Linked DNA regions of Homo sapiens: regions 2 and 3 are each linked to region 1. The links come from fine-mapping of genetic effects on gene expression. A gene starts in region 1. Each other region holds a variant in brackets. All regions are shown on one strand. Distances are between the middles of the regions. Region 1 holds the start of GIMAP6 (GTPase, IMAP family member 6). Region 2 has its middle 19 kb from the start of GIMAP4. Region 3 has its middle 22 kb from the start of GIMAP6.

Region 1 (8,187 bases):
AAATCAATACATGTAATCCATCACATAAACAAAGCCAATGACAAAAACCACATGATTATATCAATAGATGCAGAAAAGGCATTCGATAAAATTCAACACCCTTTCATATTAGAAACACTCAATAAACTAGGTATTAATGGAACATATCTCAAAATAATGAGAGCTATTTATGACAAACCCATAGCCAATATCATACTGAATGGGCGAAAGCTGGAAGCATTCTCTTTGAAAACTGGCACAAGACAAGGATACCCTCTCTCGCCATACCTATTCACATAGTATTGGAAGTTCTGACCAGAGCAATCAGGCAAGAGAAAGAAATAAATGGTATTCACATAGGGAGAGAGGAAGTCAAATTGTCTCTGCAGATGAAATGATTGTATATTTAGAAAACCCCTCATCTCAGCCCCAAAACTCCTTAAGCTAATAAAAAAACTTCAGCAAAATCTCAGGATACAAAATCAATGTACAAAAATTACAAACATTCCTATACACTAATAATAGACAAGCAGAAAGCCAAATCGTGAGTGAACTCCCATTCACAATTGCTATGAAGAAAATTAAATACCTAGGAAACAAGTTACAAGGGATGTGAATGACCTTTTCAGGGAGAACAACTACAAACCACTGCTCAAGGAAATAAGAGAGGACACAAACAAATGGAAAAACATTCCATGCTCATGGATAGGAAGAATCGATATTGTGAAAATGGCCATACTGCCTAAAGTAATTTGTAGATTCAATGCTATTTCCATTAAGCTACCATTGACTTTCTTCACCGACCTAGAAAAAACTACTTTAAATTTCATGTGGAACCAAAAAAAGAGCCTGCATAGCCAAGAGAATCCTAAGCAAAAAGAACAAAGTTCTGTAGACTTGTAGTACAGCATCACGCTACCTGACTTCAAAGTATACTACAAGTCTACAGTAACTAAAACAGCATGGTACTGATACCAACACAGATATATAGACCAATGGAACAGAACAGAAGCCTCAGAAATAACACCACACATCTACAACCATCTGATCTTCAACAAACCTGACCAAAACAAGCAATGGGGAAAGGATTCCCTATTTAATAAATGGTAGTGGGAAAACTGGCTAGCCATATGCAGAAAACTGAAACTGGACTCCTTCCTTACACCTTATACAAAAATTAACTCAAGATGTATTAAAGACTTAAACCTAAAACCTAAAATCATAAAAACCCTAGAAGAAAACCTAGGCATTATCATTCAGGACATAGGCATGAAAAAAGACTTCATGACTAAAACACCAAAAGCAATGGCAACAAAAGACAAAATTGACAAATGGGATCTGATTAAACTAAAGAGCTTCTGCACAGCAAAAGAAACTATGATCAGAGTGAACAGGCAACCTACAGAATGGGAAAAAATTTTTGCAATCTATCCATCTGACAAAGGGCTAATATCCAGAATCTACAAAGAACTTAAACAAATTTACAAGAAAAAACAAACAACCCCATCAAAAAGTGAGTGAAGGATATGAACAGACACTTCTCAAAACAAGACATTTATGCAGCCAAAAAACATATGAAAACAAGGTCATCATCACTGATCATTAGAGAAATGCAAATGAAAACCACAATGAGATACCATCTTACGCCAGTTAGAATGGTGATCATTAAAAGGTCAGGAAACAACAGATGCTGGAGAGGATGTAGAGAAATAGGAACGCTTTTACACTGTTGGTGGGAGTGTAAATTAGTTCAACCATTGTGGAAGACAGTGTGGCGATTCCTCAAGGATCTAGAGCTAGAAATACCATTTGACCCAGCAATCCCATTACTGGGTATATACCCAAAGGATTATAAATCATTCTACTATAAAGACACATGCACACCTATGTTTATTGTGGCACTGTTCACAATAGAAAAGACTTGGAATGAACCCAAATGCCCATCAATGATAGACGGGATAAAGAAAATGTGGTGCATATACACCATGGAATACTATGCAGCCATAAAAAAGAATGAGCTCATGTCCTTTGCCGGGACATGGATGACGCTGGAAACCATCATTCTCAGCAAATTAACAAAAGAACAGAAAACCAAACACTGCCTGTTCTCACTCAGGTGGGAATCAAACAATGAGAACACATGGAACAGGGAGGGGAACATCACACACCGGGGCCTGTTGTGGAATGGGGGACTGGGGGAGGGATAGCATTAGGAGAAATACCTAATGTAGAGGATGGGTTGATGGGTGCAGCAAACCACAATGGCACGTGTATACCTATGTAACAAATCTGCACGTTCTGCACATGTACCCCAGAACTTAAAGTATAATAATAATAAAAAAAGAAACAAGATCATAACAGAGATTGTGAATTACATTCTTTGTAAATATGCTGTGTTAGCATAGAGAAGTCCTCCCTCAACAAAACAATGGACTACATTATTTGGCTTGCAGGAAGTGAGGGATAACACCATGTGGGCAAAATTTTTTTAAATAACCAAATAAATACATAAGTAAATAAATAAATAAACTGAAACAGGAGTAGAGCCATAAACTCAAAGGGAAGATTGGTTGCCCCAAGAGCAAATGAAGCTCTCAGCCATACTCTCTGGAGCCTAAATTTGGAATCAGTTGTAAAGTGAGTTGTAGATTGAGGAATTTCTGGATTAAGCCAGAAATCTGAAAATGGGGTTGAAGTGGTCTCAGTTTAGTAGTACCAGCACCCCCTTGTCAGTTCCTGATAAAAATGTACACAAATCTTCTCTGGAGTAAAGCCACCTTGATTTCAATCCCAAGGATTTCCATACTTAAGTTCACAATCAAAGACTGTGAATGTAATTCCAGAAAAGAAATCACCAAAAGTGAGAGTCAGCAAAAAATAAAAAACAAACCAAAAGAACCAACATCAGATTTATATGCTGTATCAATTAGATTAGGCCAGATTACCTTGCAGTAACAAACACTTCCCAATTCTCATGGCTAAACGCTGAGCTGATTGATCCCTGGCTCAGTCAACTGCAGGTCTGGGCAACTCTCCAGAGTCAGCTTGCAGAAGATGGAAATGATTAAAATTCAAAATAGATGGTTAATTTCAATTATGGGTGGAGTAATAACATTCTAAATACTTTCTAAACACTTAGGCAATGGAATGGTAAAGATCAACACATGACTTTTAAGAATTAATTAAGTGGCTGGGCGTGGTGGCTCACACCTGTAATCCCAGAACTTTGGGAGGCCGAGGTGGGCAGATCATGAGGTCAGGTGATCGAGACCATCCTGGCTAACACAGTGAAACCCCATCTCTACTAAAAATACAAAAAATTAGCTGGGCGTGGTGGTGGGCACCTGGAGTCCCAGCTACTCAGGAGGCTGAGGCAGGAGAATGGCGTGAACCCAGGAGGTGGAACTTGCAGTGAGCCAAGACCGCACCACTGCACTCCAACCTGGGCGACAGAGCGAGACTCCGTCTCGAGAAAAAAAAAAAAAAAAGAATTAATCATGTTACACCAGGCGCGGTGGCTCACGCCCATAATCCCAACACTCTGGGAGGCCGAGGTGGGCAGATAACTTGAGGTCAGGAGTTTGAGACCAACCTGGCCAACATGGTAAAACCCCGTCTGTATTAAAAATACAAAATATTAGCCGGGTGTGCGGACGCCTGTAATTCCAGCTATTTGGGAGGCTGAGGCATGAGAATCGCTTGAACCTGGGAGGATGAGGTTGCAGTGAACTGAGATCACACCACTGCACTCCAGCCTGGGTGACAGGATGACATTCTGTCTCAAAAAAAAAAAATTAATTGTGTCAGGGTATTTACAGAATAATTTAAGTAGAACATTAAAAGATATATATATGTACACACACACATACTATGTAACAATTTTAATAAATACACCATGATTATCAACCAGAACAGAACCAAAGAAAATTAGAACTATTATAGTAGATTGAGTGGAATTTTTTTAGGGAATCTTAACATTTTAAAATCATGTGGTAACAATATCATCACCTATGCTCCTATGTTCTGAATTTCTTCCTTCAATGGCTTCCCTTTAGCCACAGTTATCAGATCTGTCAGTAAAGTCCTAGAAAACATGTTTTTGAGGATGCTGAGGTGTTTTCTCCCTTGGCCTGTGTTTAAAATATTGTTCTTCCCCCATAACAAGTGCTCTCTTTAATCCTACATTTTAGACATTCTTTTGTATTTTCCCTTTTCTTATAGTGCAGATCTTCTAGAAGCTGTAACAATTGTAATTACCAATGATTCATGCCTTAGAGGTAATGAGTGTCAGACCTTGTCCTGAGAGAAACTATTAAAGGAAGGAGAGGTTGGGGAAGAAAGGAGACAATGACTGTTTGCCCCAATACTGAGGCATAGAAGTTCCCTGGGGAAGAGGTGGGGTTCAGAAAAGAGAGATCAGGGAAAGTCACTCCTCCTGACACAAATCTTTCTGAGGCATCTGCCTCTTTTTAAGCTCTGAGTTCTAGTTATCCTGGCTCAGGATAAAAATAATCCCACCACTGGTATCCTCCCTTTTTCTACTTCCGAGGCTGCAAAGTGCAACAGCAGACTCTTCTGACTCAGGAAGGCCGGTGCTCCTACCCACTTCCTGTTCCTCCATCTCCAGCGGACACTGCTCTTTCAAGGGCAGGTCTCCAGCCCAGCTCTCTGAAAACATTTTGCTGAAAATATAAGCAAACATCGGCCTTGTCCTCCTTGTGTTCATACACTGTGGAAGCTTTTCTCTGCCTCCTCCGTGAGAGTGCGTGGCCGGGAGACCAGAAACGTGGTCCTTTCTCTTGCCTGTGAGCTGGTGCAGAGGTAAGTCTGAGTATTTGTGCGTGTCATATTTGGATGTGTATGTGTGGGTGTTTGTGTTGTACATGTGTGTTTACATGTTTGTATGTGTTAACATGAATGTGTGTGAGTGATGTTTGTGTGTGTGATGTTTGTGTTGTGTGTGTATGTGAGTGTTGTGTGTGTGTTGTGTATGTATATTTGTGTTTGTGTATGTGTTTGTGTGTTCACCTGCATGTGTGTGAGTGGTACATGTGTTTTGTGTATGTGTGTGTGTTGTGTATTTGTGTGTGCTGTGGTGTGTGCAGGTTTGTAATGTGATAAAAAGAGCTGTGACCAACACGTCTGGAGAACTTTTTGCCTTGTGACAAAGTCACTGTTTAATATTTGGCAAGATGCTTCTCTGAGTTTTGCTTTCTTCCAGAGCAATATGACAAGGATGGTACTATCTGTTCCATCTTCTGTGTTGGAGACAATGCACACTGTGGCCAACATGGGAGGTGCCATTCCGGGGAGGGTCTAGGAGGAGGCAGGGAGGTGCCTTGCGTGCAGACCCATTCCCCGAACCCTGCGAAGGCACAGTGCAGGTTCCTGCATGCCACAGCCTAGTCCCACCCGGCTGTTGTTTCCTGTTAAGCTGCCTGCCCGTTCTCTCTAAAGGAGGAATGAGATTACATTGGTAAAGTGCTGCCTCAATTTCCACCAGGGATGTAAGGAAGCCAGGGACAAAGAGATTGAGAGGCCACCAGTTAGGAAGAACTAACTCCCTTTGGTAGGTGAAATATTGTACTCCTTCCAGAATCTGGCTGTTCAGGTCTGAGTAAGGCTGTCCGCCTGGCCTGCTTCTTCTTTCTTCCTAGAAAGTCAACAGACCTTCCTGGACTCCCTCCATGCCCAGCCCAGCACTGCAAAATTGATCTTTACCAATCATAAAGCAATATCCGCATATATACTTCTGGGATCTGGGGAGGACTGGAGTGTTTGCCAGGTGAACAGAATAGAACAAACATCTAACAATGTGGCAATGAGAAAAACATGTCTATCAGGTTCCCCTGGACTTAGGTTTCCCCACACCCCAGACCCTTCATCTGGATCTGTTTCATCTGGTTGTGAATGTCCTACATGATCTGGAAAAACAGTCATGGACCATGCAACTTCCTCCTCAGTCCCACAGAGAAAATCCAGCAGAGAGAACCTTATGGGATCTTGGCACAGAGAACTGTGTTAGTCTATGAAGCCAGGACACATTGCTGTCATGGGAAAGGGGACAGGAGTTCCTGGTTGGGAATGATGTGGCCCTAATTTGCAAAAAGGACTAAGAATTGCTCTAAAAAATGTTATGAAGTATGTTGAGACCTTAATAGGGGAAGAGACATTCACAGGCATCTAGTTCAGGCCCAACATTCTTACTGATGGGATGCTGAGGCCCAGACAGAGCTAACTGGTGGCTGCTTCTCCCCTGAGGTCTCTGGCTTCCTTCCCAGCTCAGCCCCTGCAATCCCAGTCCTCTGTAACCCTCACTGCACAGTCTTCTCCAAAGTCTGGCCCCAAGGCCCACCAAGTGGCCCCTCCCAACAACATCCTACTCATTCACGTCCTCCAGGCACACCAGGCCTTCCTGCTGCTCCCAGGGAACACAGGATCAGAATCACACCTGCTTCTGTGCTTCCCTTCCTCCACCTCCTCCTTCTTCCCTTCCTCCACCTCCCCCCACCTCCCAGAACAGTTCCAGACCCTTTGTCTATCCAAATTTCATCCATTCCTCAGCTCCCAGGCCAGTTGCACCTTTATCTGTAAAATCTCTTAAACTTATGATGGAGACCACAATGAAGGGGGCGAGGGATAGCATCCCTAAAGAAATAGGGTCCCTAAAGCCAGCAGAGAGTGTCTTAGACCCCTTCTTCCATTGCCTCACTCAGTCCCACCCCAACCCTAAACTAATGCAAAAAACTTTCCTCTGGCAAGAGAAAGGCGAAAGGCAGGTGGCTGTTGAAACTCATTTGGAAAGTCAGTAGAACATATGATTTTTTTTTTTTTTTTTTTTTTGTAGATGGAGGAAGAAGAATATGAACAAATTCCCCAGGAGAATCCCCCAGAAGAGCTGTCCCAGGATCCTGTGCTGGAGCTGTCAGGAGGTAAAATGAATGAGGAGAGGGGAGCAAGTGGGAAACATTTGGGGTGCAGGTGGGACACAGCTCCACCACCATAGTGTGCTTGGAGAGGAAGCTGACGTCCCCCAGTCACAGAAATTTACCCGCCTCAGCCACCATCAGAGGCCTTTGGGGTAGGGCCCTTCTTATCACTAGCCAAAAATAAGAAAAAAGACCCCTGGATAGGTATGGTAGATAAAAGGAGGCGAGAAATAGCACCAATGACTAAATCACCATGCCAGTCCCAAAGGAAATGCTTTCACATGGTAGATGTTCTTCCTCAGGATGGATGTGCTGACAGTGCGTGTGACGAAAATAAGTGGCCTTGGACTGAGGCTTGGATGCCAACAGACCCTGTATGGGTGTTTGGCTGACTCCGAAGTGGAGCTGTCACAGTTGTAAGTTTGAAAGCGCCTTGTGCACAAGCAGAATGTACTTGGCTGCTGCCTCAGATCTGGGCTCTGCCTTATCGAGGGCGTCCCTTTCCCAAAAGCCATTGCACAGGGTCAGGCGCTTAACTTTCATGGGCTCAACTTCGTCATTCATCCTGGGGAGGCAGGATTTACAAATGCTGGAAACCCAGCCCTTTCCTGGCCAGAAGAAATGATTTGTGATTCATTATGTATTTTAATATGAATGACCTTTTACTTTATGAACTTAAATGGCCTGAGCCATCTGGAAAAAGCCACGTTAACCTACTACAATAGGGACATTACCAATACCTGTGTAACACCTGTTTGACCTTTTGTTATAGCAATCAAGGTTAGCTATTCTTTTAAGAATCCTCTCCAGAGCTCAAGTGATGCATTTGGCTTTAGTAAAGTCCAGTGGTGTGTGCTAGCTCCAGGCTGCTCAGATGGGGGTTCCTGTCTCCTCTGGCTCTGCACTGGGCTAGGTGGGTGGGGATGAAGATCTACTGCCCAGACTTCTGCCCATTCATTCAAATTCCTTCCAGCCACCTTGGGGAAGCTGGAGGGGGCCCAATGTCACTCAGTTAGAATTGGCACGTGGGTCAGAGCCAAGGGTGGCTGTCAGGCCACAGCAAGGCCTGTTGGTGCCCAGGAGATTCAGGAGATGGCCACGCCCATGCTGCCACATGCCAGCTTCATGCTTTGTCATCTGAGATACATCAATGTCTTCAGTGGGGACAAGACTGGGAAACCAGCTATTACTTGTCACTTCTTTATGTGCTCTGGGTCTTGGGACCCGCAAGGCCAGGAGAAGGGAATTCCCTTCCTGCCTTCTTCCCCAGTCATATCTA
Region 2 (8,187 bases), 46 kb after region 1:
CTTGGTACTGATGGAATGTATCTCAAAATAATAAGAGCTACTTATGACAAACCCACTGCCAATATCATACTGAATAGGCAGAAGTTGGAAGCATTCCCTTTGAAAACCAGCACAAGACAAACCTGCCCTCTCTCACCACTCCTATTCAACATAGTATTGGAAGTTCTGGCCAGGGCAATCAGGCTAGAGAAAGAAATAAAGAGTATTCAAAAACAGGAAGAGAGGAAGTCAAATTGTCTCTGTTTGCAGATGACATGATTGTATATTTAAAAAACCCCATTCTCAGCCCAAAATCTCCTTAAGCTGATAAGCAACTTTAGCAAAGTCTCAGGTTACAAAATCAATGTGCAAAAATCACAAGCATTCCTATACACCAATAATAGACAAACAGAGAGCCAAATAATGAGTGAACTCCTATTCACAATTGCTACAGAGAGAAAAAAATACCTAGGAGTACAACTTACAAGGGATGTGAAGGACCTCTTCAAGGAGAACTACAAACCACTGCTCAAGGAAATAAGAGAGGACACAAACAAATGGAAAAACTTTCCACACTCATGGATAGAAAGAATCAATATCATGAAAATGGCCATACTGCCTAAAGTAATTTATAGATTCAATGCTATCTCCATTAAGCTACCATTGTCTTTATTCACAGAATTAGAAAAAACTACTTTAAATTTCATATGGAACCAAAAAAGAGCCCATATAGCCAAGACAATCCTAAGCAAAAAGAACAAAGCTGGAGCATCATGCTACCTGACTTCAAACTATACTACAAGGCTACAGTAAATATAACAGCATGATACTGATACTGAAACCGATATATAGACCAATGGAATAGAACAGAGGCCTCAAAGATAATGCCATCCAACTACAACCATCTGGTCTTTGACAAACCTGACAAAAACAAGCAATGGGAAAAGGATTCCCTATTTAATAAATGGTGTTGGGAAAACTGGCTAGCCATATGCAGAAAACAGAAACTGGATGCCTTCCTTACACCTTATATAAAAATTAACTCAAGATGGATTAAAGACTTAAACATAAAACCTAAAACCATAAAAACCCTAGAAGAAAACCTAGGCAATACCATTCAAGACGTAGGCATGGGCAAAGACTTCATGACTAAAACACCAAAAGCAATGGCAACAAAAGCTAAAATTGACAAATGGGGTCTAATTAAACTAAAGAGCTTCTATACAGCAAAAGAAACTATCATCAGAGTGAAGAGGAAACCTACAAAATGGGAGAAAATTTTTGCAATCTATCCATCTGACAAACGGCTAATATCCAAATCTACAAGGAACATAAACAAATTTACAAGAAAAAAACAAACAACCCCATCAAAAAGTGGGTAAACAACATCCACAGACACTTATCAAAAGAAGACATTTATGCGCCAAAAAACATGAAAAAACTCATCATCATTGCTCATTAGAAAAATGCAAATCAAATCCACAATGAGATACCATCTCATAATACTTAGAATGGCCATCATTAAAAAGTCAGCAAACAACAGATGCTGGAGAGGATGTGGAGAAATAGGAACACTTTTTAAAAATATATGTATTTTTTATTAGTATACTTTAAGATCTAGAGTACATGTGCACAACATGCAGGTTTGATACATAGGTACACATGTGCCATGTTGTTTTGCTGCACCCATCAACTCCTCATTTACATTAGGTATTTCTCCTAATGCTATCCCTCCCCCTTCCCCCCACCCCACAACAGGCCCCAGTGTGTGATGTTCCCCACCCTGTGTCCATGTGTTCTCATTGTTCAATTCCCACCTATGAGTGAGAACATGTGGTGTTTGGTTTTCTGTCCTGGTGATAGTTTGCTGAGAATGATGGTTTCCAGCTTCATCCATGTCCCTACAAAGGACATGAACTCATCCTTTTTTATGGCTGCATAGTATTCCATGGTGTATAGGGGCCACATTTTCTTAATCCAGTCTATCACTGATGGACATTTGGGTTGGTTCCAAGTCTTTGCTATTGTGAATAGTGCCACAATAAACATATGTGTGCATGTGCATTTATAGTAGAATAATTTATAATCCTTTGGGTATATATACCCAGTAATGGGATGGCTGGGTCGAATGGTAATTCTAGTTCTAGATCCTTGAGGAATTGCCACACTGTCTTCCACAATGGTCAAACTAATTTATACGCCCACCAACAGTGTAAAAGTGTAGAAATAGTAACGCTTTTTCATTTTTATAGTAGAATGATATATAATCCCTTGGGTGTATACCCAAGAGTGGGAGTGTAAATTAGTTCAACCATTGTGGAAGATAGTGTGGCAATTCCTCAAGGATCTAGAACCAGAAATACCATTTGACCCAGCAATCCCATTACTGGGTATAAACCCAAAGGGTTATATATCATTCTACTATAAAGACACATGCACACATATGTTTATTGCAGCACTATTCACAATAGCAATGACTTGGAACCAACCCAAATGCCCATCAATGGTAGACTGGATAAAGAAAATGTGGCACATACATACCATGGAATACTATGCAGCCATTAAAAAAGATGAGCTCATGTCCTTTGCAGGGACAAGGATGAAGCTGGAAACCATCATTCTCAGCAAACTAACACAGGAACAGAAAACCAAACACTGCATGTTCTCACTCATAAGTGAGAGTTGAACAATGAGAACACATAGACACAGGAAGAGGAACATCACACACCGGGGCCTGTTGTGGGGTGGGGGGCTGAGGGAGGGACAGCATTAGGAGAAATACCTAATATAGATGACGGGTTGATGGGTGTAGCAAACCACCATGGCACGTGTATACCTATGTAACAAACCTGTACGTTCTGCACACGTATCCAGAACTTAGAGTATAATTTTTTTAAAAAGAATAAAATATTGGAAAGCAACATAGAGTGATGAAAACCAGACAAAAAGTAAAGGTGTTTAGATCCTCAAAATGAGGAACTACACGTGGCCACAGCCACATTAGAAAGACTGTTACTCTGAAAGTACTCCCCAGACCAAGGTTCAAGGGATGGGTAGAACTCTGATATCTAATATATCTATTTCCTGAGCCAACATCTGGAGAGACAAAACTCAGGATACACATCTGACTGCTTTATTTTTCTGCATTCCCCTCTGGCTCTTTTCCCCTAGAAGAGGATGTGGGTTTCCATATCTTATTACCTAGACTTCTGTATAAAACGCTAGTGTCTAGTAACCTGGAAACCTGGGCCTTGACATGGAAATTGGAGAAATGATAAAATGCAGACAATCCATTCTGAAGAAAGTACTCAGGCTAACATGGCTGAAAAAATTCTATTAAT[G/A]TTTTTGAATGTTGGCAGCTGATTTTTCTATATGTCTATGAAGCAAATATTGCATTCTCAAAGAACCTCTAGCATTAGCATGCATTTAAGCTTGTTAAAATACAAACTTTCTGAGGAAGTAGGTGTAGAGTGGAACCTGGGAATTGGCATTCCTAACACCTAATGTTCAAGGCATTTCCCCTATTTCCAACATTCCTAGTAAATGACAGGGTGCCAAAGACCCTTCTCCCCTGCAGGATTCCGAAGGACATAGAACACACAAAGAACTCAATCAAATCAGGCAAAATACCGTCTTTTTACCAGAAGGATATGACTTTCTAATAAAGATGGAGTAGAGACCAGAGCTGGGACCAGAGCTCAAAGTAAGTGTCTTAATCCTCCTACTGGAACAGAAGGGAGTTATTCCCCATCCTGGGCCACCTGACAACCACAGAGTGACAGCCCCAGGAGAGAAAACCAACAGAATCTGACCCAGGCAGAGCTGCCAGAAGGAGACCTTCATTGGTGACTGTAGAGTGGAAAGAGAAAGCAAAAATGAAGGTCATGTCTGGTCACCACAGGGCAAAGGGGAAAGGACAGTCTGTTTCTTGTTTTTGGAAAGTTAAAACAATAGTAGGAAGTGCTCCAGTGGGTGTCAGGCTCTCTAACATCCTGGAATTGATCAGTCATCTGCATTCCTGAGAAGATGACAATTTATTAAGCAACTCCAGAGTTGTTTCCTCCTGGGTGTAGAGGGATAAACAGTTTCTCTTTCCAAGCCAGAGGGAGGAGAGTGAGCTTGGTATAGAAATGCCCAGTGCTGTCTTTGGTACCTTCCCCTGTAACTCAAAATCTCTAGGAAAGCTGCTGAAGCTTACATAATGCTGATCACTATTATGATGGTGGAAACTAGGCAGAAAACTGAACTTCAAGTGAATGAACTGCAAGTGCATGAAATGGGGTAAGACAGAGGACAGTGGCACACGCAGGAGGAAGTAGGGGAAGGATGAGGAAGTGAGTGCAGAAAGCTCCCTGCAGGAGGGAGTTTGGATTCTGTGTGCTGTGGAAATGCAGCTTGAGCCAAGTTTTACCATTCTCCAAGGGCAAGGGGGATGTACCACTGCCAAATGGGTGAAAAATATTTAACGAGTGCTTCACACACTCCAGGATATTGGAATCCAATGGTGAATAAGGAAGTGTTCTTCATCAGCCATAACTGTAGGAGACAGATAGCAAGTAGTCAAAATACAAGATCAAAACTACTTTGTCCTGGGTATACCCAGCATCAATGAGCATAAGTGTCTTGAATGGGCTAGGAAACATTTCCCACAAAAAGGTCAGATAGATGATGAATGCTGCTCTATGAATGCTTCAGCAGTGCCAAATCATCTTGTGGCTGACTGCCATGGTTATTACTTGAGACTGTCACTATGACAGTTACTACTGTTACTACTTGAGACCGTCATTACAAGACTGAATGAAGGGACGAACATAGAAATGAAAACTTAAGACAAAAGAAACCATTTTAAAGGAAAGGGAACTGGGGAAGAAGAAAAGGGCTCCCTGCTTCTAGTGAGCAAAGGCCGCCCCTGAGCTTCTACCACGCTTCGTATTTATTGGGTAGAATGACCAGGGAGCAGAAGGTAATGATTGGTCAGCTGCTTAATTGAACACAGGTTCACATTATTACTAACAGGCTTCAGATGTACCTAATCACAACAAACATTGCACTTGGCCGTCACTGCCCTCAGTATCCCTTCTGGGTGGAAGACACAGTTTGTCGGTCTGCCAACATTCTGCATTTGAGAAACAGTTTGCTGCCTACTCATATAGCCTCCAGTGGTATGCTGAATTGACCACGACCCTCAATCTTTTGTCCTCCAACATTTCTCCCTTTTTGTTTTTGAATTAATTGAATAAGGCAATTGCAAAATGTGCAGCCTTCAATTGCTGGTTGGTGGTTCGTTCGTCTTCACATTCAGATTCAACTGGCTCATGGCTCACACTGGGGGAACCAGGCCTGTGGCTGGGATCCATGGTTCCCTCCAATCTCCTGTTCCATGGTTGTACACACCTTGAGGGCACCCACATGGTTTGTTCATTTGCTGTGAAAACACAAGCATACCCTCGCCCCCACGTTAGTAAATCTAGCAAAGCAGAAGCAAAAAGTTTTTGTGGCTGTAGCCGGGAGGCATGCCGTTGCTGAAGCGTCTGCTCTGCAACCTGTAACTCAGCTTCTGTCTCTTTGGTTAATTACCGCAGGGTAAAACTTTCCATTGATAATGAGAGGCTGGCTCTTTCTGATTAACAGAAGGCACACAGAGAGCAAATCGAGGCTTATCCTTCTCCAGTCTCTCATTCCATCACCACCCAAAGAGAGCAGCCCAGGGAGCAGTGTGTGAGGGTGAACATTAGAAACATGAAAAGGAGCAGCATGAGAGTGAACAGCTTGTTGAAGTCCCAGAAACAAGTGAAACGGCCCTGGTTTGAATGCCTCTGACATATCTCCCCCTTTACAAGAGGACCCTTAATCCTAAGGGTTGCAGAGGGATGAAGATCTGTCTTCTGTAACTTCTTCAGGCTGAATAGGGGTGATGATATTCCTGCCTAACTATTAGGGTCTCTGTTTCTGCTTCAGAAGATAGTACAGGTGTCTCTACTACTGAAAAGGGCAGTACAGGCCAATTCTCATCCTCCCTCTCCTGCCCTCCACCCCCGGTGGGTTCAACGTGCAGGGCAAAAGACTCCTTTAAACCTTGAGACACAAAACACGAACCGCCCATCCAGTCTGAGACATGACAGAATCTCAGCACTCTGTTGAACACTTTGAGCTGTTCCTACTCCCACTAGGGATGTAGAAGATAGTTTTAGGGACCGAGATAGGGGCCAATTGTTTTTAGATATTACTGACACACTGACACATCAGCTCCTATATCCATAAGCCCATAAAACTTCTTTCCTTTGATTTGCACTGTATAGGTGGGTCTATTAGATGCCACGGGTTGTGATAGGTAAGTCTCTCTCCCAGTTGCACTTCCAAATCCCTGACCTCCTCACTTCTTCTTATGTAGAGAGGGGTACAATTTATAGGGAATAAGCAACAGTTGAGCAATATATTCTCCTGGTTCAAAAACCCAAAGATCTTGTGACGTTACCACTGCTTGAATTTCTCCTTCACAATCCCAATTACCAACTCCTGGGCCTGTAAGTTAAGACAGCTTTTGCCCAAAATTAATCCCATGTATCCTGTTGGCAAAGGTCCACAAATGCCAATGGGAATCTTAGTGAGTTTGTTTCTTCCAATTAACGTAACCTGCTCTCTAACTGGGCCATCTAATCCTGCGCTTCCAGGTGTTCCTGGGGAGAGGGAATCAATATGCCTCTGGAAACCAATCCCTGAAATGAAGCTGTTCTCTGGACAGGGAATGCCCTCATTTTTTGAGGTGCCAGGGTCCAGGCCCCCTTCTCACTTCCCAAGAGGGGGCTGCCATTTTGATGAAACTTTGAGTGGCATTGATTAACTCAATGATTCCCTTTATTGCAATGAGGGCCAAGTCCTGGCATTTTTTCTGTTAAGAGGGGAACTGTGTTACAAGATCCCTTTTGCCCAGAGGTCTGGCAGTGTTCTTTTTTGAAATGTCCAATTTTTCTACACTTATAACACTTTCCCACATTAGGGCTTGACCCTTGGCTTCTTTTAGATCTGTCAGCTACCAAATTAGCCATTGTCTGAGTCAATACTGCAGAGCAATGAAGCTCAGTTCCCACATCCCGACAAGCTCCGAGAAAACCTCCCAAGTTCTCTGCACATCTCACAGGTGCCAATGCAGGTTTACAATCCCAGAAAGCCAAAGCTAAAGTTAGCCTTTCTGTAGCCACAAAGGAAGATGGTACAAGCCAATTTCCATTCTCCCTCTCCTGTTCACTACTTTTGATAGGTGCTGTAGGTGGGGCAAAAAATTCCCTAAAACCCTGAAATAACAAAAAGATAGTACGTACCGAACTCCAAACAAAAGAGCGAAGAAATAGCCAAATTCTTCCCCATGTTACCCTGATTCAAAAACTTCCCATTCTTTGTACCTCTAGGGCCCTGACCTTATGTTGCTGCAGGCAGACTTGTAACAGGGTTTCTCATTCGTCTGGTTGGTTTTAATTTTTTCTGGGCTTTGGTTTTTTCTGTTCCAGCAGACCTTCCTCATTCAAGTCCCTTTAGGACCCAACTCTCCCTATCTGTCCCAGCAAGTTTTGCTAGTCTTTATCTATCCCTATCTGTCCCTCTCAGTCCCTATAGCCCCTGTTAGTTCCTGCAAGTTCTTGCAAGTCCCTGTCTTTCCCTACCTATCTCTATTTGTCCCTATTTGTCTATTTATCTCCATTTATCCCTCCTTATCTCTATTTGTCCCTGCAGGCCTCTTCAGGTCCCTTCAGGTCTCTTTTTGTCTCTGATAGTCCCTGTTTGTCCCTGTTCAGGTGCCACTTTTGGCTGACTGCCATGGTTATTACTTGAGACTGTCACTATGACAGTTACTACTGTTACTACTTGAAACCATCATCACAAGACGGAATGAAGGGACAAACGTAGAAATGAAAGCTTAAGACAAAAGAAACTTTTATAGGAAGGGGAACTGGGGAAGAAGAATAGCACTCCTCCTTCTAGTGAGCAAAAGCAGCCCCTGAGCTTCTACTGCACTTCGTATTTATTGGGTAGAATGGCCAGAGAGCAGGAGGTAACTACTGGTCCGCTTCTTAATTGATCACAGGTTCATATGATTACTAACAAGCTTCAGATGTACCTAATCACAAGAAACATCGTGCTTGGGGTGTAACTGCCCTCAATATCCCTTCTGGGTGGAAGATGCAGTTTGTCAGTCTGCCAAAATTCTGCATT
Region 3 (8,187 bases), 23 kb after region 1:
GGAATGTTCAACCTCTACTCCTACTACATTGGTGCAAAACAAAATGAAGCCTTCACAACGTTGAAGAGAGTTTTAAGACAATGTTCTGGGCTATATTTGGACTTTCTGAAGTGAAATCAGTGATCATCAACTATAACCACAAATTCATTGAAAACATTGGTTATGTTCTTTATGGAGTCTGTAATGTTACAATGGTCATTGTTTTGCTAAATATGTTAATTGCCATGATCAACAATTCGTTCCAGGAAATTGAGGATGATGCTGATGTGGGTCATAAAAAAGGTTTCCAGGAAGATGTAGAGATAAGTAAGTAGAGATAGACATAAATAGAGATATACATAAATAGAGATAGAGATAAATAGAGACAGAGATAGACATAACTAGAGATAGAGATAGAGGTAAATAGAGATAGAGATAAGTAAGTAGAGATAGAGATAAGTAGAGATAGGTAGGAAAATACAGGGACTTGCAGGAACTCACAGGAAATAACAGGTACCATAGGGACAGACAGGGACAGATACGGATAGATGAAGACCAGCAATATAAGGTCAGTACCCTAAAGAGGTATTGGTCAGTGCCCTAAAGAGGTACTGGTCAGTGAGGTACAAAAGCAAAGACTAGCAATATAAGGTTAGTGCCTTAAAGAGGTACTGGTCAGTGCCCTAAAGAGGTACAAAGGTAGAGACTAGCAAAGACAAGCAGAGATTTGCAGGGACAGACAAGAACATTCTGAATTATGGAAATTAGCTATGGCTCAAAGTCCAATCAAAATCTGAGAGGGCAAATATAAAAGGAATAGAGGGGAAGGAGGTAAGGATGAAAATGCTCTTTCTTTTCTCTCCAGCAGGACCTTTTGGATTCAAAGTCGTGCTAGCAATAGGAAATGTTACTCTTGATATAATACACACTTTATTACATGCCCTGATTGTTGCTTGTTTACCTGCATTAATTCAACCTTTGATGAAAATATAACTATCTTGATAATTAAAGCCAGGGAAGGAGTTTGATCCCTCTGTCTCTAAATAGACTATGGGAAACATCACCAAGTATTTATATTGTAACTGAGATCCTTAAAAAACTCTTATCCCGTTCCAAAAGATTTATAGTTGAAGGCCATTGGAGGCTCTACATTGTGGGTTTCTTTCTGGTTGTTGTGTGCTTGTGCTGTCTCCTTTTAGTCTGCAGATGCAGAAGCTGCCTCTGAAGAGGAAACCGCCTCTGAAGAGAAAGCTGCCATCAAGAACAAGCAATGATAGCTGTGGTGGTTTTATGAAAAAGAAAAGGGGGGTATGTTGGGAAAAGCTGAGTGTTGGGAAAAACTGAGGCAGGGCTTGCATGTCTGACATAATGTAAAAAAGTCTTGGAACCTGTCCAGGGTCCGGGGTCTGAAACCTCTCTTGGCCTTTGGAACACCAAGCTCTGTGCTAAAGGGTGGAAGGCTACCCTGATGCACCATAATCTAAGCCCAGGGGATAAAACCCCTCATGGCTTGGATAGAATCCAGGGCTCAGGGCATAAAACCCCTCATGGCCTCTGGAATGTGTCTAGATGCTGGCTCCTTGCTTCTTGCTCTCCCAGGATCGATTGTATCTTGAGTTAGAAGAACCTTCTCTCCATTATCTCAAGTAGCAGAGCATATGCTAAACCATCACAGCTGTAAATCATGTGCTTAATGCAATACTCCCTTTCAACCCCACATTCTCACCACCTGTTTCTTTGTTTGATCACCAATAAATAGTCTGGGCTTCCAGAGCTTGGGACCTTCGCAGCCTCCATACTCACGTTGGACCCCTGGGCCCACTTTCTCTCTCAAACGTCTTTTCTCATTCCTTTGACTCTGCCAGACTTCGTCACCCCCATGACCTGGTGTTGGGTCCAATCACCCCAACACATGAGCTGCTCCCACTTCCTAGATGAATAGGATACCTCAGTTGGAAATGCAGAAATCACTGGTCTTCTGCATTGGTCTTGCTGGGAGCTGCAGACCAGAGCTGTTCCTATTCGGCCATCTTGTCAGATCTCCCTGGAGGTCTTTATCTTAAGTGAAATAAGCCAAGCACAAGAAGAACAATATCACATGTGGGAGTTAAAATATCATATGTGGGAGTTGAAATATCATATGTGGGAGTTGAAAGATTCGATCACATGGAAGTAGAAAAGAGTGAAAAGATAGCAGAGACTGAGAAAGTAGAGGGTGGATGAAGAGAATTGTGTTAAAGGGGACAAACATAAAATTAGATAGAAGTAATAAGTTCAGTGTTTGATGGCAGAGTAGGGTGACTATAGTTAAACAAAAATATACTGTATTTGTGTGATGGACACCCTAAATACCCTTCACTGTGCATTATGTACATGTAACAAAAATTCACATGTTCCCTATAAATTTGTACAAATAAAAAACTGTGAAAGAAGATTCTGCTTATAGTGATAAAGATGTTTCTATGTTAACAAATTAGAAATTATTGCCTCCAATTTAAAGGATCTTAAGAAACAAATATAAATCTTTCATCAGACAAGTCCCACCTTCTCCATTAATGTTTTTTATTATACTTTAAGTTTTAGGGTACATGTGCACAACGTGCAGGTTTGTTACATATGTATACATGTGTCACGTTGGTGTGCTGCACCCATTAACTCGTCATTTAGCATTAGGTATATCTCCTAATGCTATCCCTCCCCTCTCCCCCCACCCCACAACAGGCCCCAGTGTGTGATGTTCCCCTTCCTGTGTCCATGTGTTCTCATTGTTCAATTCCCATCTATGAGTGAGAACATGCGGTGTTTGGTTTTTTGTCCTTGTGATAGTTTGCTGAGAATGATGGTTTCCAGTTTCATCCATGTCCCTACAAAGGGCATGAACTCATCATTTTTTATGGCTGCATAGTATTCCATGGAGTATATGTGCCACATTTTCTTAATCAGTCTATCATTGTTGGACATTTGAGTTGGTTCCAAAGTCTTTGCTATTGTGAATAGTGCCACAATAAACATATGTGTGCATGTGTCTTTATAGCAGCATGATGTCTTTATAGCAGCAGGATTATCCAATATCCCTGATGAACATCGATGCAAAAATCCTCAATAAAATACTGGCAAACCGAATCCAGCAGCACATCAAAAAGCTTATCCACCATGATCAAGTGGGCTTCATCCCTGGGATGCAAGGCTGGTTCAACATACACAAATCATAAAATGTAATCCAGCATATAAACAGAACCAACGACCTAAACCACATGATTACCTCAATAGATGCAGAAAAGGCCTTTGATAAAATTCAAAAACCCTTCTTGCTAAAAACTCTCAATAAATTAAGTATTGATGGGACATATCTCAAAATAATAAGAGCTATCTATGACAAACCCACAGCCAATATCATACTGAATGGGCATTGATTTCTTTAGTGGATTAAATTTGACTCCTGGGAATCTTTGCTCAGAGGAATTTTTCAATTCTTGGCTATTATTCTCCTTATAGTTATTGTGTTTACCTCCTGGTGCATTACATTCTATCAAGGGTTTTTATTCTTTCCAGTGGCCACTCACATGTCAAAAGATTGCCCTTAGGATCAGCCAACTCAAGGAAACGAATATGGACCAAGTAATTGTTCACAGTAGCTTTGTAACTCTGAACCCCAGCATAACGATTAATGATGACAACAACATCTTCCTGACTTTTCTTTCCAAGGACTACATCAACATTGGTAACTGAGAGTAATGCTATGCCATTTGGTCACACTGTCAGCTTGCTGAAGAAATAACTAAAAAGGGAAAATTCTTAAAGCACAATTAAAATGGAGACCGGGCCTAAACATTGCTGAGCAAACAAAACCAATGGAAAATTAAAAATAGCCTTAACATTGCTTAAACTGCAAACAGAAGCAAAATTTTAACTTGGGTC[A/T]TTTCTGGTAAATGCTTATGTTGAACAGAAATGAAACTTAGTCTCAGCCAATCATAAGCAGCTGACTAATATATGTTCATGAGTTTAGGGATTTCCAACAACATAAACCAAAAAAGATGATATTATAGCTGCAAACAATCAAATACTGTATTTATTTTGCATCCACATTCATCCTACAAATCTTTGCCTCTGATTCTTTGTCATTGAAACACTAACCCTCTTTTGGTTTTGTGTTTCCCAATTCATGAATTGCTTGTTACTCAAATAAACACTATATATCTGATTGTGCCTCAGTTTACCATTTTAAATAATCTATCTGACCTCTTTGTGGAAACATTTCCTTCTCAAAAAAGATACCTAATTGGTGCCAGGTATACCCAGGACAAAGTAGTTTAGATCTTGTATTTTAACTACTTGCTGTCTGTCTCCTACAGTTGTGGCTGATGAAGAACACTTCCTTGTTCATCATTGGATTCCAACGTCCTGGAGTGCGTTAAGCACTCACTAAATGCTTCTCACCCATTTAGTAGCTGATTTTGATTTTGTATCCTGAGACTTTGCTGAAGTTGCCTATCAGCTTAAGGAGATTTTGGGCTGAGACGATGGGGTTTTCTAGATATACAATCATGTCATCTGCAAACAGGGACAATTTGACTTCCTCTTTTCCTAATTGAATACCCTTTATTTTCTTCTCCTGCCTGATTGCCCTGGCCAGAACTTCCAACATTATGTTGAATAGGAGTGGTGAGAGAGGGCATCCCTGTCTTGTGCCAGTTTTCAAAGGGAATGCTTCCAGTTTGCCCACTCAGTATGATGTTGGCTGTGGGTTTGTCATAGATAGCTCTTATTATTTTGAGATACATCCTATCAATACCTAATTTATTGAGAGTTTTTAGGATGAAGCATTGTTGAATTTTGTCAAAGGCCTTTTCTGCATCTATTGAGATAATCATGTGGTTTTTGTCTTTGGTTCTGTTTATATGCTGGATTATGTTTATAGATTTTCATATGCTGAACCAGCCTTGCATCCCAGGGATGAAGCCCAATTGATCATGGTGGATAAGCTTTTTGATGTGCTGCTGGATTCGGTTTGCCAGTATTTTATTGAGGATTTTTGCATCAATGTTCATCAAGGATATTGGCCTAAAATTCCCTTTTTTTGTTGTGTCTCTGCCAGGCTTTGGTATCAGGATGATGCTGGCCTCATAAAATGAGTTAGGGAGGATTCCCTCTTTTTCTATTGATTGGAATAGTTTCAGAAGGAATGGTACCAGCTCCTTCTTTTACCTCTGGTAGAATTCCGCTGTGAATCCATCCGGTCCTGGACTTTTTTTGGTTGGTAAATTATTAATTATTGCCTCAATTTCAGAGCCTGTTATTGGTCTATTGAGAGATTCAACTTCTTCCTGGTTTAGTCTTGGGAGGGTGTATGTGTCGAGGAATTTATCCATTTCTTCTAGATTTTCTAGTTTATTTGCGTAGAGGTGTTTATAGTATTCTCTGATGGTAGTTTGTATTTCTGTGGGATCGGTGGTGATATCCCCTTTATCATTTTTTATTGCATCTATTTGATTCTTCTCTCTTTTCTTCTTTATTAGTCTTGCTAGCGGTCTATCAATTTTCTTGATCTTTTCAAAAAACCAGCTCCTGGATTCCTTGATTTTGCTGAAAGGTTTTTTGTGTCTCTATTTCCTTCATTTCTGCCCTGATCTTAGTTATTTCTTGCCTTCTGCTAGCTTTTGAATGTGTTTGCTCTTGCTTCTCTAGTTCTTTTAATTGTGGTGTTAAGGTGTCAATTTTAGATCTTTCCTGCTTTCTCTTGTGGGCATTTAGTGCTATAAATTTCCCTCTACACAGTGCTTTGAATGTGTCCCAGAGATTCTGGTATATTGTGTCTTTGTTCTCATTGGTTTCAAAGAACAACTTTATTTCTGCCCTCATTTCGTTATTTACCCAGTAGTCATTCAGGAGCAGGTTGTTCAGTTTCCATGTATTTGAGCAGTTTTGAGTGAGATTCTTAATCCTGAGTTCTAGTTTGATTGTACTGTGGTCTGAGAGACAGTTTGTTATAATTTCTGTTCTTTTACATTTGCTGAGGAGGGCTTTACTTCCAACTATGTGGTCAATTTTGGAATAGGTGTGGTGTGGTGCTGAAAAGAATGTATATTCTGTTGATTTGGGATGGAGAGTTCTGTAGATGTCTATTAGGTCCACTTGGTGCAGAACTGAGTTCAATTCCTGGATATCCTTGTTAACTTTCTGTCTCATTGATCTGTCTAGTGTTGACAGTGGGGTGTTGAAGTCTCCAATTATTATTGTGTGGGAGTCTAAGTCTCTTTGTAGGTCACTAAGGACTTGCTTTATGATTCTGGGTGCTCCTGTATTGGGTGCATATATATTTAGGATAATTAGCTCTTCTTGTTGAATTGATCCCTTTACCCTTATGTAATGATCTTCTTTGTCACTTTTGATCTGTGTTGGTTTAAAGTCTGTTTTATCAGAGACTAGGATTGCCAATCCTGCCTTTTTTTGTTTTCCATTTGCTTGGTAGATCTTCCTCCATCCCTTTATTTGGAGCCTATGTGTGTCTCTGCATGTGAGATGGGTTTCCTGAATACAGCACACTGATGGGTCTTGACTCTATATCCAATTTGCCAGTCTGTGACTTTCAATTGGAGCATTTAGCCCATTTACATTTAAGGTTAATATTGTTATGTGTGAATTTGATCCTGTCATTGTGATGTTAGCTGGTTATTTTGCACGTTAGTTGATGCAGTTTTTTCCTAGCCTTGATGGTCTTTACAATTTGGCATGTTTTTGCAGTGGCTGGTACTGGTTGTTCCTTTCCATGTTTCGTGCTCCCTTCAGGAGTTCTTTTAGGGCAGGCCTGGTGGTGACAAAATCTCTCAGCATTTGCTTGTCTGTAAAGTATTTTATTTCTCCTTCACTTATGAAGCTTATTTTGGCTGGATATGGAATTCTGGGTTGAAAATTCTTTTCTTTAAGAGTGTTGAATATTGTCCCCCACTCTCTTCTGGCTTGTAGAGTTTCTGCCGAGAGATCAGCTGTTAGTCTGATGAGCTTCCCTTTGTGGGTATCCCGACCTTTCTGTCTGGCTGTCCTTAACATTTTTTCCTTCATTTCAACTTTGATGAATCTGACAATTATGTGTCTTGGAGTTGCTCTTCTCGAGGAGTGTCTTTGTGGCATTCTCTGTATTTCCTGAATTTGAATGTTGGCCTGCCTTGCTGGATTGGGGAAGTTCTCCTGGATATTATCCTGCAGAGTGTTTTCCAACTTGGTTCCATTCTCCCCGTCACTTTCAGGTATACCAATCAGACGTAGATTTGGTCTTTTCACATAGTCCCATACTTCTTGGGGGCTTTGTTCATTTTTTTTAATGCTTTTTTCTCTAAACTTCCCTTCTCACTTCATTTCATTCATTTCATCTTCCATCACCGATACCCTTTCTTCCAATTGATTGAATCAGCTACTGAGGCTTGTGCATTCATCACGTAGTTCTCATGCCTTGGTTTTCAGCTCCAACAGGTCCTTTAAGGACTTCTCTGCATTGGTTATTCTAGTTAGCCATTCACCTAATTTTTTTTCAAGGTTTTTAACTTTTTTGCCATGTGTTGGAACTTCCTCCTTTAGCTCGGTGTAGTTTGATCATCTGAAGTCCTCTTCTCTCAACTTGTCAAAGTCATTCTCCATCCAGCTTTGTTCTGTTGCTGGTGAGGAGCTACGTTCCTATGGAGGAGAAGAGGTGCTCTGATTTTTAGAGTTTCCAGTTTTTCTGCTCTGTTTTTTCCCCATCTTTATGGTTTTATCTACCTTTTGTCTTTGATGATGGTGACGTACAGATGGGTTTTTGGTGTGGATGTCCTTTCTGTTTGTTAGTTTTCCTTCTAACAGTCAGGACCCTCAGCTGCAGGTCTATTGGAGTTTGCTGGAGGTCCACTCCAGACCCTGTTTGCCTGGGTATCAGCAGTGGTGGCTGCAAAACAGCAGATATTGGTGAACCCCAAATGCTGCTTCCTGATCATTCCTCTGGAAGTTTTGTTTCAGAGGAGTACCCGGCCGTGTGAGGCATCAGTTCACCCCTACTGGGGGGTGCCTCCCAGTTGGCCTACTCGGTGGTCAGGGACCCACTTGAGGAGGCTGTCTGCCCATTCTTAGATCTCAAGCTGCATGCTGGGAGAAACACTACTCTCTTCAAAGCTGTCAGACAGGGACATTTAGGTCTGCAGAGGTTACTGCTGCCCTTTGTTTGTCTGTGCCCTGCCCCCA

The links. PIP is the estimated chance that this variant, and not a neighbour inherited with it, causes the effect.
Region 2: its variant is fine-mapped to the expression of GIMAP6 in whole blood (TOPMed, PIP 0.97).
Region 3: its variant is fine-mapped to the expression of GIMAP6 in whole blood (INTERVAL, PIP above 0.99).

Annotation. Positions count from the first base shown.
Region 1 is chr7:150,628,782-150,636,968 of GRCh38, reverse strand. It overlaps GIMAP6 (GTPase, IMAP family member 6), which reads left to right and starts at 4,584. Exons shown (of 3, transcript NM_024711.6): 1 at 4,584-4,800; 2 at 6,827-6,911. The coding sequence starts at 6,827. RefSeq lists enhancers at 4,634-4,723, 4,734-4,823, 5,094-5,173 and silencers at 7,222-7,422, 7,442-7,642.
Region 2 is chr7:150,582,729-150,590,915 of GRCh38, reverse strand. No RefSeq gene overlaps it. Among named protein-coding and RNA genes, the nearest start is that of GIMAP4, 19 kb to the right of the region's middle. RefSeq lists an enhancer at 4,211-4,390. The variant G/A (reference allele first, on the strand shown) is at 3,321.
Region 3 is chr7:150,606,152-150,614,338 of GRCh38, reverse strand. It overlaps the pseudogene TRPC6P3. Among named protein-coding and RNA genes, the nearest start is that of GIMAP6, 22 kb to the left of the region's middle. The variant A/T (reference allele first, on the strand shown) is at 3,898.